Regions from separate parts of the Homo sapiens genome. Here region 2 is linked to region 1. Evidence: fine-mapped expression QTL. Tissue or cell type: unexposed skin. Region 1 holds a variant in brackets; the other region holds the start of a gene. All regions are shown on one strand. Distances are from middle to middle.

Region 1 (8,106 bases):
AACACAGGAGTAAATCATCATGACCTGGGTTACACAATGATTTCTTATATATGACACCAAAAGCATAAGCAACGAAAGAAAAACAGATAAATCAAACATAATCAAAATTCAAACACTTTGTGTCTCAAAAGACTCCATTAAGAAACTAAAAGGACAATCATAGAATGGGAGAAGATACTGAAAATCCTATGGCTGTAAGGAACTGATATTTAGAATGTATAAGGAACTGTTACAACTCAATAATAAAAAAGATAACCTAATTAAAAATGGGCAAAGGATCTGAAGAGACATTTCTCCAAATAATGCACACAAATGGCCAACAAGCACATAAGAAGACGTTTAACATCCTTAGTTGTTAGAAAACCGCAAATCAAAAGCGCAATGAAATGAGATACCACCTCACACCCACTAGGATAGCTAGAATCAAAAAGACATACAATAACAAGTTTGGTGTGGATGTGGGGAAACTGGAGCCCTCACTTACTGCTGGTAAGAAGGAGAAATGGTGCTGCCACTATCTGGTAGTTCCTCAAAAGCTAAATGTGCTGTTATGATCCAGTAATTGCATTTCTAGCTATACAATCAAAAGAAATGAAAACCAGCATCTACACAAAAACCCGCACATGAAAGCTCATAGAGGCTGGGCATGGTGGCTCACCTCTAATCCCAGTGCTTTGGGAAGTCAAAGCAGGAGGATCACTTGAGCTCAGGAGTTCAAGACCAGACTAGGCAACACAGTGAGACCCCATCTCTACAAAAAATTTAAAAATTAGTCAGGCATGGTGGTTTGTGCCTGTGGTCCTAGCTACTTGGGAGGCTGGGGAGGGAGGATTGTCTGAGCCCAGAAGATTGAGGCTGCAATAAGCCATAATCCTGCCACTGCACTCCAGTTGGGTGACAGAGTGAGACCTTGTCTCCAAAAAAAAAAAAAAAAAAAAAAACAAGAAAAAGAAGTTCTCAGCAACTTCATAGTAGTGAAAAGGTAGAAATAACCCAAATGTCTATCATCTGATGGATGGATAAATACAATGTAACATATCCATGTAATGCAATATTATTCAGCAATAAACAGAACAAAACAGTGATACCTGTGTGAATCTTGAAAATTATGCTAAGTGGCCTGGCACGGTAGCTCACGCCTGTAATCCTGGCACTTTGGAAGCCCAAGGCAGGCGGATTACCTGAGGTCAGGAGTTTGAGACCAGCCCGGCCAACATGGTGAAACCTTGTCTCTACTATAAATACAAAAATTAGCCGGGCGTGGTGGTGGGTGCCTGTAATCCCAGCTACTCTGGAGACTGAGGCACAAGAATTGCTTGAACCCGGGAGGGAGAAGTTGCAGTAAGCTGAGATCACGCCACTGCCCTCTAGCCTGGGTGACAGAGCAAGGCTCCATCTTAAGAAAAATAAAAGGAAAATTATGCTAAGTGAAAATTATGCTTTGTGAAAGCCAGTCACAAAGGGCCACATATGGTATGATCTACTCATATGAAATGCCCAGAGCAGGCAAATCTACAGGGTCAGAAAGCAGAGTGGTGGCTGCATACGGTTGAGGGAGGGAAGAATGAAGGGTGGCTGATAATGGGCTGGCATTTATATTTGTTCTAAATTTGATTGTGACTGTACAACTCTGTGAATGTGCTGAAAGCATTGACTTTTACACTTCAAATGGGTGAACTGTATGGTTATGTGAAAAAAAAGCTTCTACCAAAATAAGATGAGAATTTACTATGAAAAACCTTATGTCAAAAAATCAGAAAATTTTGGCTGGGCGCAGTGGCTCACACCTGCAATCCCAGCACTTTCGGAGGCTGAGGCGGGTGGATTGCTTGAGCTCAGGAGTTTGAGACGAACCCGGGCAACTTGGTGACACCCCATCTCTACCAAAAATATAAAAATTAGCCAGGTGTGGTGGCATGCACCTATAGTTTCAGCTAATGGGGAGGCTGAGGTGGGAGGATTGCTTGAGTCCAGGAGGCTGAGGCCAAAACAGTGGTTTTTAACATTTTTATTACTTTTCACTGTTGTAGTGTTATTTTTTCTTTCTGAACATTTTTGACCCAAGGTTGGTTCATGGAGGTGGAACCCAAGAACACTGAGGGCCAACTGTATGAGACTTCTGTCAATTCTCCTGTCATGATCCATAGGATTGTTCATATCCTGATTAAAATCCTCACTGTGGGATGGGAAAAGCTGATTCTAAAATGAATATGAAACTACAGTGGGGAAGAATAGCCAAGGAAGTCTAGGAGACAGAAAGACGTGCTTTCTCATACACGGTAGATGACTACAAAGCTACAGAGTGGTGCTGGGATACCGACAGCAACTGACACTGGGTTAGAGCAGAGCAGAAACACAGCCACACATGCATTGTCACGTGACCAGCTACAAAGGTGGCAGCGTGAGGGTTGGACGGAATTGTTTCAAAAATGAATTTCAGGTGAATTTCGCATCTCAGTGTGAAAGCAGAGTGAAGTATCCAGAAAGCAATGCAGAATACCTTCACGACCTGAGAGTATGCAAAGATTTCTCAAACAGCACAGGAAAAGCACAGCTATGAAAGAAAAGATACCAGTTGATGCTGGAATGAAGAGCTGCCCATGGAAAGGCTCACGAGGGGAGTGCAGCGCCTGCCTCACAGGAGAGCAAGACAGCTCTTCTCTCTCAGCAGGGGCCACATCTCTTTCACCTCCCTTCCCCGCACCCGACACTGCTCTCCATCCAGACGCAGGTCCAGGAGTCCAGATTCGCACCCAGGGAGCTTCAGTGCAGACCCAGGACCGACAACCACTGTTTCTCTAATGCGTTCTACTCTGACTACTCTGCCAGATGGAAAGGGGTGCCCACACAGAAGCAATGAGTAAACAGGCAGTTTTGTTCATGTTTTTGCTTTTGACAGAGAAGATGGTGTGAAGCTAGAGCGACATGAGGAAGAGCGAGCGGCCGAGCATCCTCACCTCCACTAGGGCAAACTTCTCCTCGCTGGTGTAGTTGTAGCGCGTGGCACGCTCGTACTCTTCAGCGCTGTCGGGGCAGTCCTTGTTGGAGTACTTGTCGGTGGGGTGCACAAGCTTCCAGGAATACTGTGGTGGCCGAAAGAGCAGAGGTGTTCCATATTGCATGCAAAACGCCTGGCTTCTGGTCTGACTCACACGATGGTGGCCAAAGCCAGGCCAGCCTTCAAACCTTTGCTGCATTCTGAAAGTCACACATGAGGGCGCACACACCGTCCATCTCCACAGATGGGCAAAAGACCCTGGCCCTGTAACCTCTCGTTTAAAAAATCTACCCGGCAAAATGGCCTGGATAGTGAG[T/C]GCTGAGTATCTAAGACTCTGGCATTTCATCATCATTTTAAAAAGGATTCTGGGCCAGGCACAGTGGCTCATGCCTATGACCCCAGCACTTGGGAGGTTGAGGCAGGAGGATCACTTGAGCCCAAGAGTTCAAGATCAGCCTGAGCAATATAGTGAGGCCTCATCTCTACAAAAAATAAAATAATAAGTAAGTAAATAAAGATTTTGCCTTTCAAATGACCATGTACTCTTCCAATTTGATAATTTTTATGTGATCAAAATAAATCACAAAAGGGAAAATCTTTCATTGCTTACAGGTATCCAAATCTTTATATGGCACCAGAAATAATTTACTAATGTTCAACAAAAGACATTGATGGCTGGAGCTCCAAAGAGAAAATGTTATCTTAAAAATGCAGGGCGTGAAGCGACATTAATGGGTACAAATGTACAGTCTGATATTAGAAATAAGACAGTGTTAGATAGATCAGTTAGGGTGACTATTAATTAAAATAATTTATGGTACATTTCAGAATAGATAGGGAAGAACTCGAATTTTTCTGGCATAAGGACAAATATTTATGGCGATGGACATCCCAAGCACACCAATTAGATCTTTGCAAACTGTATGACTGTATTAAATTATCACATGTATCCTGAAACTATGTACCCCTATTATGCATCAATACAAGTAAATATTTAAAGCAAAATAAAATTTAAATGAAAAAATGAGACTTGGCCAGGTACAGTGGCTCACGCCTGTAATCCCAGCACTTTGGAAGGCCCAGGCAGGCAGATGGCTTGAGGCCAGGAGTTTGAGACCAGCCTGGCCCACACGGCGAGACTGTCTGTACAAAAAAAACCAAAAAACAAAAAACTAGGCCAGGTGCGGTGGCTCAAGCCTGTAATCCTAGCACTTTGGGAGACTGAGGCGGGTAGTTCACCTGAGGTCAGGAGTTCAAGACCAGTGTGGCCAACATGGTGAAATACCATCTCTACTAAAAACACAAAAAAATTAGCCAGAAGTGGTGGTGGGCGCCTGTAATCCCAGCTAACTCAGGAGGCTGAGGCAGGAGAATCGCTTGAACCCAGGAGGCAGAGGTTGCAGTGAGCCGAGATCACGCCATTGCACTCCAGCCTGGGCAACAAGAGCGAAACTCCGTCTCAAAAAAAAAAAAAAAAAAAAAAAATTAGCCGGGAGCCGTGGTGCACACCTGTGGTCCCAGCAACTTGGGAGGCTGAGGCAGAAGGATCGCTTGGGGTGGGGAGTCAAGGCTGTAGGGACTTATGTTTGCACCACCGCACTCCAGCCTAAGCGACAGGGTGAGACTATCTCAAAAAAAGAACGACTTAAAGAAAATCACAATGGTACAAATTTAATTCTATCAAGATTTTTTTTAAAAAGGAGGCCCTTCATTTATTACACACATAAATGAGATGTACTTAAAATCACCTTGGAAACATATCTACTGATAGATATTCTCGTCTTTCTAGGGCCAAAGATAAAAAGCCCAAAGACCAAAAGTTAATGTGAATAAAGTGCCCGAGGCAGCTTTGGAGCGGGGCTGGGGTCGGGGACGGGGCCTACCACTTCCATCACGTGCGCGCTCCACTGCGACAACAGCTGCAGGCCCTGCAGCGCCAGGTCGAAGAGCTTGCGGTACTCCGCGTCCGTCTTCTGGGCCTCCTGGCGGCCCGAGCCCGTGACCACCTGCACAAGGCGGGCACGGCCCCGTGAGAAACCAGCGCCCCCACCCAGCTCCCCCCATCCCGGGATCCACCATGAGAATCCACCCCAAAGTCACACGTGTGAAAATAAGAAATGCAGGAGGCCAAGGCGGGCGGATCACAAGGTCGGGAGATCCAGACCATCCTAAAACGGTGAAACCCCGTCTCTACTGAAAAATACAAAAAAATTAGCTGGGCATGGTGGCGGGCACCTGTAGTCCCAGCTACTTCAGAGGCTGAGGCAGGAGAATGGCGTGAGCCCGGGAGGCGGAGCTTGCAGTGAGCCGACACTGCGCCACTGCACTCCAGCCTGGGCGACAGAGCGAGACTCCGTCTCAAAAAATAATAAATAAATAAATAAATAAATAAATAAATAAATAAATAAATAAAAAGAAAATAAGAAATGCTGTGGGTGCTGGACCCTCCTCCCGGGAAAATGGCGGCCAAGGGCGTGCTGCAGAGCACAGAGCAAGGGACAGGCCGCTGCCACAGCCACCGCCTGGGGGACCGCGGGCTGGGCGCGGGGCTGTTACACGCGTGGGCTTGGCGCACTTCCACTAGGCCGGGGAAGGGCAACACACAAGTCACGTGGGTTTGCTTCTATCAAATAACCACCCCCTAAATTTAAACATGTGACCTATGGGGAGGAAGGGGCACCGTGGAGAAGGCAGGCTTCTTTGAATATACCTTTTTATAGATGTGATATTAGAACCACACAAATATTTTATATATTTAGGACACAGAATTAAATGAGATCGGAAATGCAATGCCTAGAAGTCAAAAGCAAAATGAAACAATGGCGGGAACCTGCATGGAGCTCACAGCATGACCACTGAGAGGACCCTGAGCAGCTCTAAACACCACGGTGTGACTTAAAATCCTCTGAGTGAGGGGCCCGGTGCGATGGCTCATGCTGTAATCCCAGCACTTTGGGAGGCCGGGGCAGGTGGATTGCCTGAGGTCAGGAGTTCGAGATCAGCCTGGCCAACATAGTGAAACCCCATCTCTACCAAAAATATAAAAAAGTAGCTGGGCGTGGTGCTGCATGCCTGTAATCTCAGCTACTCGGGAAGCTGAGGCAGGAGAATTGCTAGAACCCAGGAGGCGAAGATTGCAGTGAGCCAAGATCCCGCCATCACACGCCATCCAGCCTGGGCAACAAGAGCGAAACTCCATCTCAAAAAAAAAAAAAAAAGTACCCTGAGTAAGAAGCTCAAGGGCAAAATCACCTGCAAAACAAATCATAAAACAATTTCTAGTCACTGTAATTAGTAGTGCTGGCATTGCTCTTTTAAGACTAGATTATGACCGGGTGCAATGGCTCATGCCTGTAATCCCAAAACTCTGGGAGGCTGAGGTGGGCGAATCACAAGGTCAAGAGATGGAGATCATCCTGGCCAACATGGTGAAACCCCGTCTCTACTAAAAATACAAAAATTAGCTAAGCATGGTGGCGTGCGCCTGTAGTCCCAGCTACTTGGGAGGCTGAGGCAGGAGAATTGCTTGAATCCGGGAGGTGGAAGTTGCAATGAGCCAAGATCACACCATTGCACTCCAGCCTGGGCAACAGAGAGAGACTCTGTCTCAAAAAAAAAAAAAAAAAAAAAAGGCCAGGCACGGTGGCTCACGCCTGTAATCCCAGCACTTTGGGAGGCCGAGACGGGCGGATCACGAGGTCAGGAGATCAAGACCATCCTGGCTAACACAGTGAAACCCCATCTCTACTAAAAATACAAAAAAATTAGCCGGGCGTGGTGGCGGGCGCCTGTAGTCCCAGCTACTCAGAAGGCTGAGGCAGGAGAATGGCGTGAACCTGGGAGGCGGAGCTTGCAGTGAGCCGAGATCGCGCCACTGCACTCCAGCCTGGGCAACAGAGCAAGACTCCACCTCAAAAACAAACAAAAAAAAGACTAGATTATGACATAATGACATAAATCAAATTATGCTGGCGTCATTCACCAGGATGTTCAGCTTTCAGAAAAAAGAAAATCAACAAACCTAAAGTCGAATCACTTTAAAATTGTACTCAGAGGCCGGGTGCGGTGGCTCATGCCTGTAATCCCAGCACTTTGGGAGGCCGAGACGGGTGGATCACCAGGTCAGGAGATTGAGACCATCCTGGCTAGAACAGTGTCTCTACTAAAAAAACACACAAAAAACACACACAAAAAAAAACACAAAAAAACACACACACAAAAATTAGCCGGGCGTAGTGGTGGGTGCCTGTAGTCCCAGCTACTCGGGAGGCTGAGGAAGGAGAATGGTGTGAACCTTGGCTTGCAGTGAGCCGAGATTGCACCACTGCACTCCAGCCTGGGCGACACAGCAAGACTCCGTCTCACCCAAAAAAAAAAAAAAAAAAAAAAACTGTACTCCGAAAAAAACTGATTTGTTACCTTAGACAATGCCAGAGAAACAATTACAGTCAGATGCCACCTAAGGATGCTCCAGTCAACAAGACCACACACATGATGGTGCTCCCATAAAATCTTAACGTAGTGGAAAAATTCCTACTGCCTAGTGATGTCCTGATGATCCTGACCCCGTGTAGGCCTAGGCTAATGTGTGTGTTTGGGTCTTCATTTTTAACGAAAAAGCTCAAAAGGAAAAAAACAAAAACTTTTTGGTAGAAAAATAATTTACAGAATAAGGAGATAAAGAAAAAATATTTTTGCACAGGTATAGAGTGTGTTTGTGTTTTAAGCAAAGTGTTGTTACAAAAGCCAAAAAGCTCTTTTTAAAAGTAAAAAGTTTATAAAGTAAAAAAGTTACAGTAAGCTAAGGCTAATTCGTTATTAAAGAAAGAAAAAGCCTTTTAAAAAATTTAGCACAGCCTAAGCACACAGTGTTCATAAAGGCCACAGCAGTGCACAGTACTGTCCTAGGCCTCCCACTCGCTCGCCACTCACTCACTGACTCACCCAGGACAGCCTCCTTGTCTGACATGCCCAAACGCTTGCCAGGGGTCTGTGTTAGAAGCAGCAGGTGCCCCAACATACCTGGACTACTGGGTTGTCAGTCAGTTTGGTTACATGATGATGACTGGTAACCATGGGGGGTGGGGGACAGGGTGCTCATCGTCCTG
Region 2 (8,106 bases), 110 kb after region 1:
GGGGACCTCTGCCATAACAAACACATCCAAGATGCCACACAGCAAGAGAAAAGGATAACCAATCCCACCTTGTGTAAGTGGGTGGGGGCTGTGGACACAGAGGGGATAGTGAAGCAGACAAGACTGCACAGCCTTACTGATTCCCTCAACAAACATGCACTGTCCACTGTGCTCTAGGTGTCCGGGAACAAATCAGACACAGAGCCCTATGCCTGTAAAATGTGCCTTTTAAAGGGGGAGACAAGAAAGGAACTATAAAGAATTGAAATACATAGCATGTGTGGAGACAGTGCCTGAGTTTAATATTAAAACGTGAGCTTCCTCAGGCAGGAGAAAGGGAAAGAACTATGTAGGCACAAGATGTGTCACAGCAGAGCTAGGGAATGTGGTCCCACCGTGTTCAGGGAACCCACAGCTGTTTCCATACGCTTGCCATCCTTGGTTTGACCTCTAGGGGGCTACAGACTCAGCAGCTAAGGTCAGCCATGTGGGCTCTGCTTGCTTATGTGACCCACCCCCAATAAAAATGCTGGTCACCAAGGCTCAGCCGAGTGGCCCTGGGGGGAGTGGAGGGTAATACTTTGCACATGTTGTCATATACTGTTACTGAGAGAATTAACTGCATCCCCAGGTGACTCCACTAGGAAGGAACATTTGGACATGCGTGCCTAGCTTCTCCTAGACTTTGCTCTAAGCACCTTTTCCCTTTGGTGATTTTAATCTGTATCCTTTCACTGTAATAAACTATTAACAGTGAGGATAACAGCTTTTTTTTTTTAAGTTCTGTGAATCCTTTGAGCAAATCATTATGCCAAAAGGTGGTCTTGGGGAATCCCCCAAACAATATGAAAGTATACCAGGCATCTAGTAAGCATCTACAGACAGTCACTGCCAAGTGCTGAGAAACCATTTGAAAGTTTTGAGATACCCAAACAATGCTACTATTTGTATCAATCTCTGATCTCTCTTTCCTTAGTAGGACTGAGGTGAAAAAATGATTAAAAACAAGCTCTTTCTTTCATCACAAACTGAGGCATATCTGGTTTGATGGCAATATTTAAGTAAATTTCCAAGAGATCCCGTTAGCCAGTAGATAATACTAAAATAGAATGTTTAAACAGTAACTGAAACAAATTGACGATAATCAGATAGGAAACAGTAAAATACACAGTGGAGATCTCATAATTGAAGGCATACCTTTATTTCCTTTATACTGGGAAGTGGTGCATTTAGAAATTCCTCCGTTAATCTCTTCCAACTAGCAGCTTTGCTTAGATCAGAATGAATGACAAATTTTTCATAAATTCTAAAATATAAGAAAAGATTATAAAGCTATCTTAAAAAGATCTATAAGAAAATACATATATTTCTGGATGCGTATATATACACACTGACTTACCCTTCGATTGTTTTTTCTATTTTGTGGCTGTTGACATCCAAGAAACGATGAAATCTATTAAAGACAAAATGCAATTCTTATGCCAACTCTGTCACACAGGTAAGTGAACTCATCTCATGGCCCTCCATATCCCCCATATGCTCTGTACTCAGCTACACATTTCCAGAATGGAGTGTACCTTGTCCTCCGTTACCTCCACCATCAGGCAGGCAAATAATCACCGTGTCCGAGACTGTGCAAGCATCCTTTCTCCAGCACACAGGTTCTTCCTGACCCTCCCAACCTTGTCCTCTGGCTCCTCTGTCTTCCCATAAGCCCCTGTACCTAAGTCCAGCTGAACACATTCTACATCAGGTGGTCCCAACCTTTTTATGCCATAGTGAGGCCCGGTGAAGCCTAAGGACCCCTTCTCTGAATAACATTTTTAAAGCCAAAAAATAAATACAAAGGAATCCCATTATACTGAGATACAGTTGTCAAATATTTAAAGAAGTTTAAGATATGGCAAGAAATGTTATTTATGAAAGTATTAAATAACAAGATTTAGCAGTAGGTCCAATTAACTACCATTAAAGTAACAGTAAACAACATTTACAAATATCTACAACTCTGATGTGAAAACAGTATGCGATTTCTACTGGTGATAAAGTCATAGGTAGGCTAATACTGCTATGGTTTGCTGCCTTCATTCATAATAGAAGGAGATGCTACTTTTCAGTTAGAGAAAAGTGAGCTTGCTCAGTGCAAGCTCCGCCTCCTGGGTTCGCGCCATTCTCCTGCCTCAGCCTCCCAAGTAGCTGGGACTACAGGCGCCTGCCACCACGCCCGGCTAATTTTTTGTACTTTTAGTAGAGACCGGGTTTCACCGTGTTAGCCAGGATAGTCTCGATCTCCTGACCTCGTGATCCACCCACCTCGGCCTCCTAAAGTGCTGGGATTACAGGCGTGAGCCACCGCGCCCAGTCCACAATTTTCAAGAATGTAAACATGAACTATTCATTTTTCTGATGGTTTAAAGCATCATAAAATTACAGCACAGCCTATGCAACTAATGTATATGTACATAGCATAGCCTATGCAAAAAATGTTTTCCATTTTTTAGTATCAAAGCGAGCAATCTGTACTTAAATAAAATTACACTACTGAAAAACACATGATTCTAGGCCAGTAAATGGGTGAATGGAACACCACTTTACCTATTATAATTTAGTTCCTGAAATCTGTGAATGAAAATAGTAACCTCCAACGTCTCTCCCAGCTCTAAAATGATGACAATCTGCCTACTGTCATTTAGAAATATTAGTAGAAAAATAACTTGGATTTCAGCATTTAAGTTTCTGTATTGTATAACCTATTTCACACATTGTTTATTTTTATAAGTTACACTTAAGAATTCAGTTTATTACTTCAGAAACTTGGCATGGTTTAAAAGAATCTGAAAGCCCCGTATTCCTATTATAAGCCAACTAGACACTTTATGGCTATGATCATTAAGGTAACTAAGATTACGGATTTTGAAAAACTGTTCATTATTCAAGAAGATTTTTACTGAAATTAAACAGGTAGAATATTAACATTAACATTTTTTTAGTAATAATTTCATTATGGGTAATGACTCTAAAAGTATTAATTTACATCTCCCATAAAGAAAAATAGGAGATCTCACTTTACGTAAATATCTAAATTCTGTAAGTCTTTAAAAATTAGTTACAAGAGAAACTGCATTAGAAATTGTATTAGGTGACTCAGCGTGCTACGTGCCAGGAGCTGTGCAGAGATGCAGCATTCTAGCTGGAGTGGAAGTGGAGGAGACAGTAATGACAGGTTAAATCAGTGTCATGACACGCGTTTTGGAAAAAGGAGAGCAGGGTGAGAGATCTTACACTGGGCTGACCAGGGAGCAGGAGTCAGTGAGAATACAATCTCTTTAATTTAAAAAAAAAAAAAATTATAAACATGGAGTTGCTACGTTGCCCAAGCTGGCCTGGAGTCCCGCCTGGGCCTCCCAGAGCGCTGGGGTTGCAGGCGCGCGCGCCGGCCGGCAAGAAACCCAGTTCACGCTTTCCCCGTGACGATCAGGACGCGTCCCGGGTAACACGCCCTGTGGTGCGCAGGGCACCGCGCCGAGAGCGCTGGCCGGCGGGGAGCAGGCGGTGGCAGGGCCTGCGAAGGCTCCCTGAGGCCGCGCCCGCCTCCGCCCCATGCCCTGCCCCAGCGCGCCCCGACCCCGGGCTGTGCGGGACCCACGCGCGGGCTCCGGGCTGTGGCCGGGAACCCGCCCGCGCGCCGTGCCCCACACCTGAAGTTGGACCAGGCGAAGTTTAGGGCGAGCTGGAAGTTGGGGTCTGCCTCGTCCTGGAGGCCGGCGACACCCCGGACGAGCTCCCGCACGTCGCGCTCCTGCTGCGCGTCCAACCGACTCCACGGTGGCCCGTGCCGCGCCATGTTCCGCGCTCCTGCAGCGCGCGTCTAACGAATTGGTGCCTGTCGCGCGAGAGCTCGGGCTCCTGCCGCAGTCGCCTCCGGAGCTGGCGGCATTCTCGCGAGAGTTCGCGCTCCCGCGCCGGGCGACTTCCAAGCCGACCGCTATTCTCGCGACAGTTCGAGCTCCGGCTGTGGAGGGTACTGCCTGGCGCTGTCCCGTGGTGGGGACTGGAGTGCGCATTTTCTGGTTGCCCGACGGTACGTTTTCTACTGTACTCAGAGTTAGCTGGTGTCATCGTGAATCAGATACATAAGGGTCTCTGGCCGGCCTCGGTGACAGTCAGTGATTTTGAGAGCAGCCCGTTAGGTGCCCGGTCAGCAAATGCATTGGGACCCGCCTTTCCAGGAACCCTGAACTGCTTACCTGCTGAACCCTCCCGGCCCTGCAGCTTCTCCCTCCAGTGATGGTCTCTGCGGATTTCCGTGCCCCATCCACACAACACAGTCACGCTACACACATCCATGCTACACAACCAGCATCAGCGAAGCAGCTGTCCCGACCCGCTAGTAGTGCCTGCTGGCCCTTGCCTCGCCTGTTCCTCAGGGGCGGCTTGGGGGACTTCATGACCCCACCTGGCCAGAGGTGCTGAGGGGGGGAACTTCATAAATGTCACCTGGCCAGAGGTGGTGGGGGAGATTTCATAACCCCACCTAGCCAGAGGTGCTGGGGGGACTTCATAACCACACCTAGCCAGAGGTGCCGGGAGGACTTCATAACCACACCTGGACAGAGGTGCTGGGGGGACATCATAACCTCACCTGCTCAGAGGTGCTAGGGGGTATCATAATCCCACCTGGCCAGAGGTGCTGTGGGGCCATCATAACCCAACCTGGCCAGAGGTGCTGGGGGGACATCTTAACCTCACCTGGCCAGAGGTGCTAGGGGGATATCATAATCCCACCTGGCCAGAGATTCTGGGGGGACATCATAACCCCAGCTGGCCGGAGGTGCCGGGGGGCGGGGGGAACTTCATAACCCCACCTGGCCAGAGGTGCTGGGGGGACATCATAACCTCACCTGGCCAGAGGTGCTAGGGGGTATCATAATCCCACCTGGCCAGAGATGCTGGGGGGCCATCATAACCCCACCTGGCCAGAGGTGCTGTGGGGCCATCATAACCCCACCTGGCCGGAGGTGCTGGGGGGCGGGGGGAACTTCGTAACCCCACCTGGCCAGAGGTGCTGGGGGTGACTTCATAAATGTCACCTGGCCAGAGGTGCTGGGGGGGATTTCATAACCCCACCTGACCAGGGGTGCTGGGGGGACATCATAACCTCACCTGGCCAGAGGTGCTGGGGGGTATCATAATCTGACCTGGCCAGAGATGCTGGGGGGACATCATAACCCCACCTGGCCAGAGGTGTTGTGGGGCCATCATAACCCCAGCTGGCCGGAGGTGCTGGGGGGCGGGGGGAACTTCTTAACCCCACCTGGCCAGAGGTGCTGGGGGTGACTTCATAAATGTCACCTGGCCAGAGGTGCTGGGGGGGATTTCATAACCCCACCTGGCCAGAGGTGCTGGGGGGACATCATAACCTCACCTGGCCAGAGGTGCTGGGGGGTATCATAATCCCACCTGGCCAGAGATGCTGGGGGGACATCATAACCCCACTTGGCCAGAGGTGCTGTGGGGCCATCATAACCCCAGCTGGCCGGAGGTGCTGGGGAGCGGGGGGAACTTCATAACCCCACCCGGCCAGAGGTGCTGGGGGTGACTTCATAAATGTCACCTGGCCAGAGGTGCTGGGGGGATTTCATAACCCAACCTGGCCAGAGGTGCTGGGGGGACATCTTAACCTCACCTGGCCAGAGGTGCTAGGGGGATATCATAATCCCACCTGGCCAGAGATGCTGGGGGGACATCATAACCCCACCTGGCCGGAGGTGCTGGGGGGCGGGGGGAACTTCATAACCCCACCTGGCCAGAGGTGCTGGTGGTGACTTCATAAATGTCACCTGGCCAGAGGTGCTGGGGGGGATTTCATAACCACAGCTGGCCATAGGTGCTGGGGGAGATTTCATAACCCCACCTGGCCAGAGGTGCTGGGGGGACTTCATAACCACACCTGGCCAGAGGTGCCAGGAGGACTTCATAACCACACCTGGCCAGAGGTGCTGGGGGGACATCATAACCTCACCTGGCCAGAGGTGCTGTGGGGGGGTATTATAACCCCACCTGGCCAGAGGTGCTGGGGGGTATCATAATCCTACCTCGACAGAGGTGCTGTGGGGCCATCATAACCCCAGCTGGCAGGAGGTCCTGGTGGGCCATCATAACCCCACCTGGCCAGAGGTGCTGGGCGGCGGGGGGAACTTCTTAACCCCACCTGGCCAGAGGTGCTGGGGGTGACTTCAAAATGTCACCTGGCGAGAGGTGCTGGGGGGGATTTCATAACCCCACCTGGCCAGAGGTGCCGGGGGGACTTCATAACCCCACCTGGCCAGAGGTGCCGGGAGGACTTCATAACCACACCTGGCCAGAGGTGCCGGGGGGGCATCATAACCACACCTGGCCAGAGGTGCCGGTGGGACTTCATAACCCCACCTGGCCAGAGGTGCCGGGGGGACTTCATAACCACACCTGGCCAGAGGTACCGGGGGGACATCATAACCACACCTGGCCAGAGGTGCCGGGGGGACATCATAACCTCACCTGGCCAGAGGTGCTGGGGGTGGGTATTATATCCCCACCTGGCCAGAGGTGCTGGGGGGGACGTCATAACCACACTTGGCCAGAGGTGCCGGTGGGACTTCATAACCCCACCTGGCCAGAGGTGCTGGGGGACATCATAACCCCACCTGGCCAGAGGTGCCAGGGGGGACATCATAACCCCACCTGGCCAGAGGTGCTGGGGGACATCATAATCCCACCTGGCCAGAGGTGCTCTGGGGCCATCATAACCCCACTTGGCCGGAGGTGCTGGGGGGCGGGGGGAACTTCATAACCCCACCTGGCCAGAGGTGCTGGGGGTGACTTCATAACTGTCACCTGGCCAGAGGTGCTGGGGGGGATTTCATAACCCCACCTGGCCAGAGGTGCTGCGGGGGACTTCATAACCACACCTGGCCAGAGGTGCCGGGAGGACTTCATAACCCCACCTGGCCAGAGGTGCTGGGGGACATCATAACCTCACCTGGCCAGAGGTGCTGGGGGGTATCATAATCCCACCTGGCCAGAGATGCTGGGGGGACATCATAACCCCACCTGGCCAGAGGTGCTGTGGGGCCATCATAACCCCAGCTGGCCGGAGGTGCTGGGGGCAGGGGGAATTTCATAACCCTACCCGGACAGAGGTGCTAGGGGTGACTTCATAAATGTCACCTGGCCAGAGGTGCTGGAGGGGATTTCATAACCCCACCTGGCCAGAGGTGCTGGGGGGGACTTCATAACCCCACCTGGCCAGAGGTCCTGGGGGACTTCATAACCCCACCTGGCCAGAGGTGCTGGGGGGACATCATAACTTCACCTGGCCAGAGGTGCTGGGGGGTATCATAATCCCACCTGGCCAGAGATGCTGGGGGGACATCATAACCCCACCTGCCAGAGGTGCTGGGGGGCGGGGGGAACTTCATAACCCCACCTGGCCAGAGGTGCTGGGGGTGACTTCATAAATGTCACCTGGCCAGAGGTGCTGGGGGGATTTCATAACCCAACCTGGCCAGAGGTGCTGGGGGGACATCATAACCTCACCTGGCCAGAGGTGCTAGGGGGATATCATAATCCCACCTGGCCAGAGATGCTGGGGGGACATCATAACCCCACCTGGCCGGAGGTGCTGGGGGGCGGGGGGAACTTCCTAACCCTACCTGGCCGGAGGTGCTGGGGGTGACTTCATAAATGTCACCAGGCCAGAGGTGCTGGGGGGGATTTCATAACCACAGCTGGCCAGAGGTGCTGGGGGAGATTTCATAACCCCACCTGGCCAGAGGTGCTAGTGGGACTTCATAATCACACCTGGCCAGAGGTGCCAGGAGGACTTCATAACCACACCTGGCCAGAGGTGCTGGGGGGACATCATAACCTCACCTGGCCAGAGGTGCTGTGGGGGGGTATTATAACCCCACCTGGCCAGAGGTGCTGGGGGGGTCATAATCCCACTTGGCCAGAGGTGCTGTGGGGCCATCATAACCCCAGCTGGCCGGAGGTGCCGGGGGGCGGGGGGAACTTCATAACCCCACCTGGCCAGAGTTGCTGGGGGTGACTTCATAAATGTCACCTGGC

Evidence for each region. PIP is the estimated chance that this variant, and not a neighbour inherited with it, causes the effect.
Region 2: TUBGCP5 starts here. The variant in region 1 is fine-mapped to the expression of TUBGCP5 in unexposed skin (GTEx, PIP 0.96).

Annotation. Positions count from the first base shown.
Region 1 is chr15:22,923,025-22,931,130 of GRCh38, forward strand. CYFIP1 (cytoplasmic FMR1 interacting protein 1) reads right to left here. Exons shown (of 31, transcript NM_014608.6): 12 at 4,882-5,004; 13 at 2,958-3,083. Among named protein-coding and RNA genes, the nearest start is that of CYFIP1, 53 kb to the right of the region's middle. The variant T/C (reference allele first, on the strand shown) is at 3,315.
Region 2 is chr15:23,035,700-23,043,805 of GRCh38, forward strand. It overlaps TUBGCP5 (tubulin gamma complex component 5), which reads right to left and starts at 3,870. Exons shown (of 23, transcript NM_052903.6): 1 at 3,699-3,870; 2 at 1,400-1,453; 3 at 1,198-1,306. The coding sequence starts at 3,844.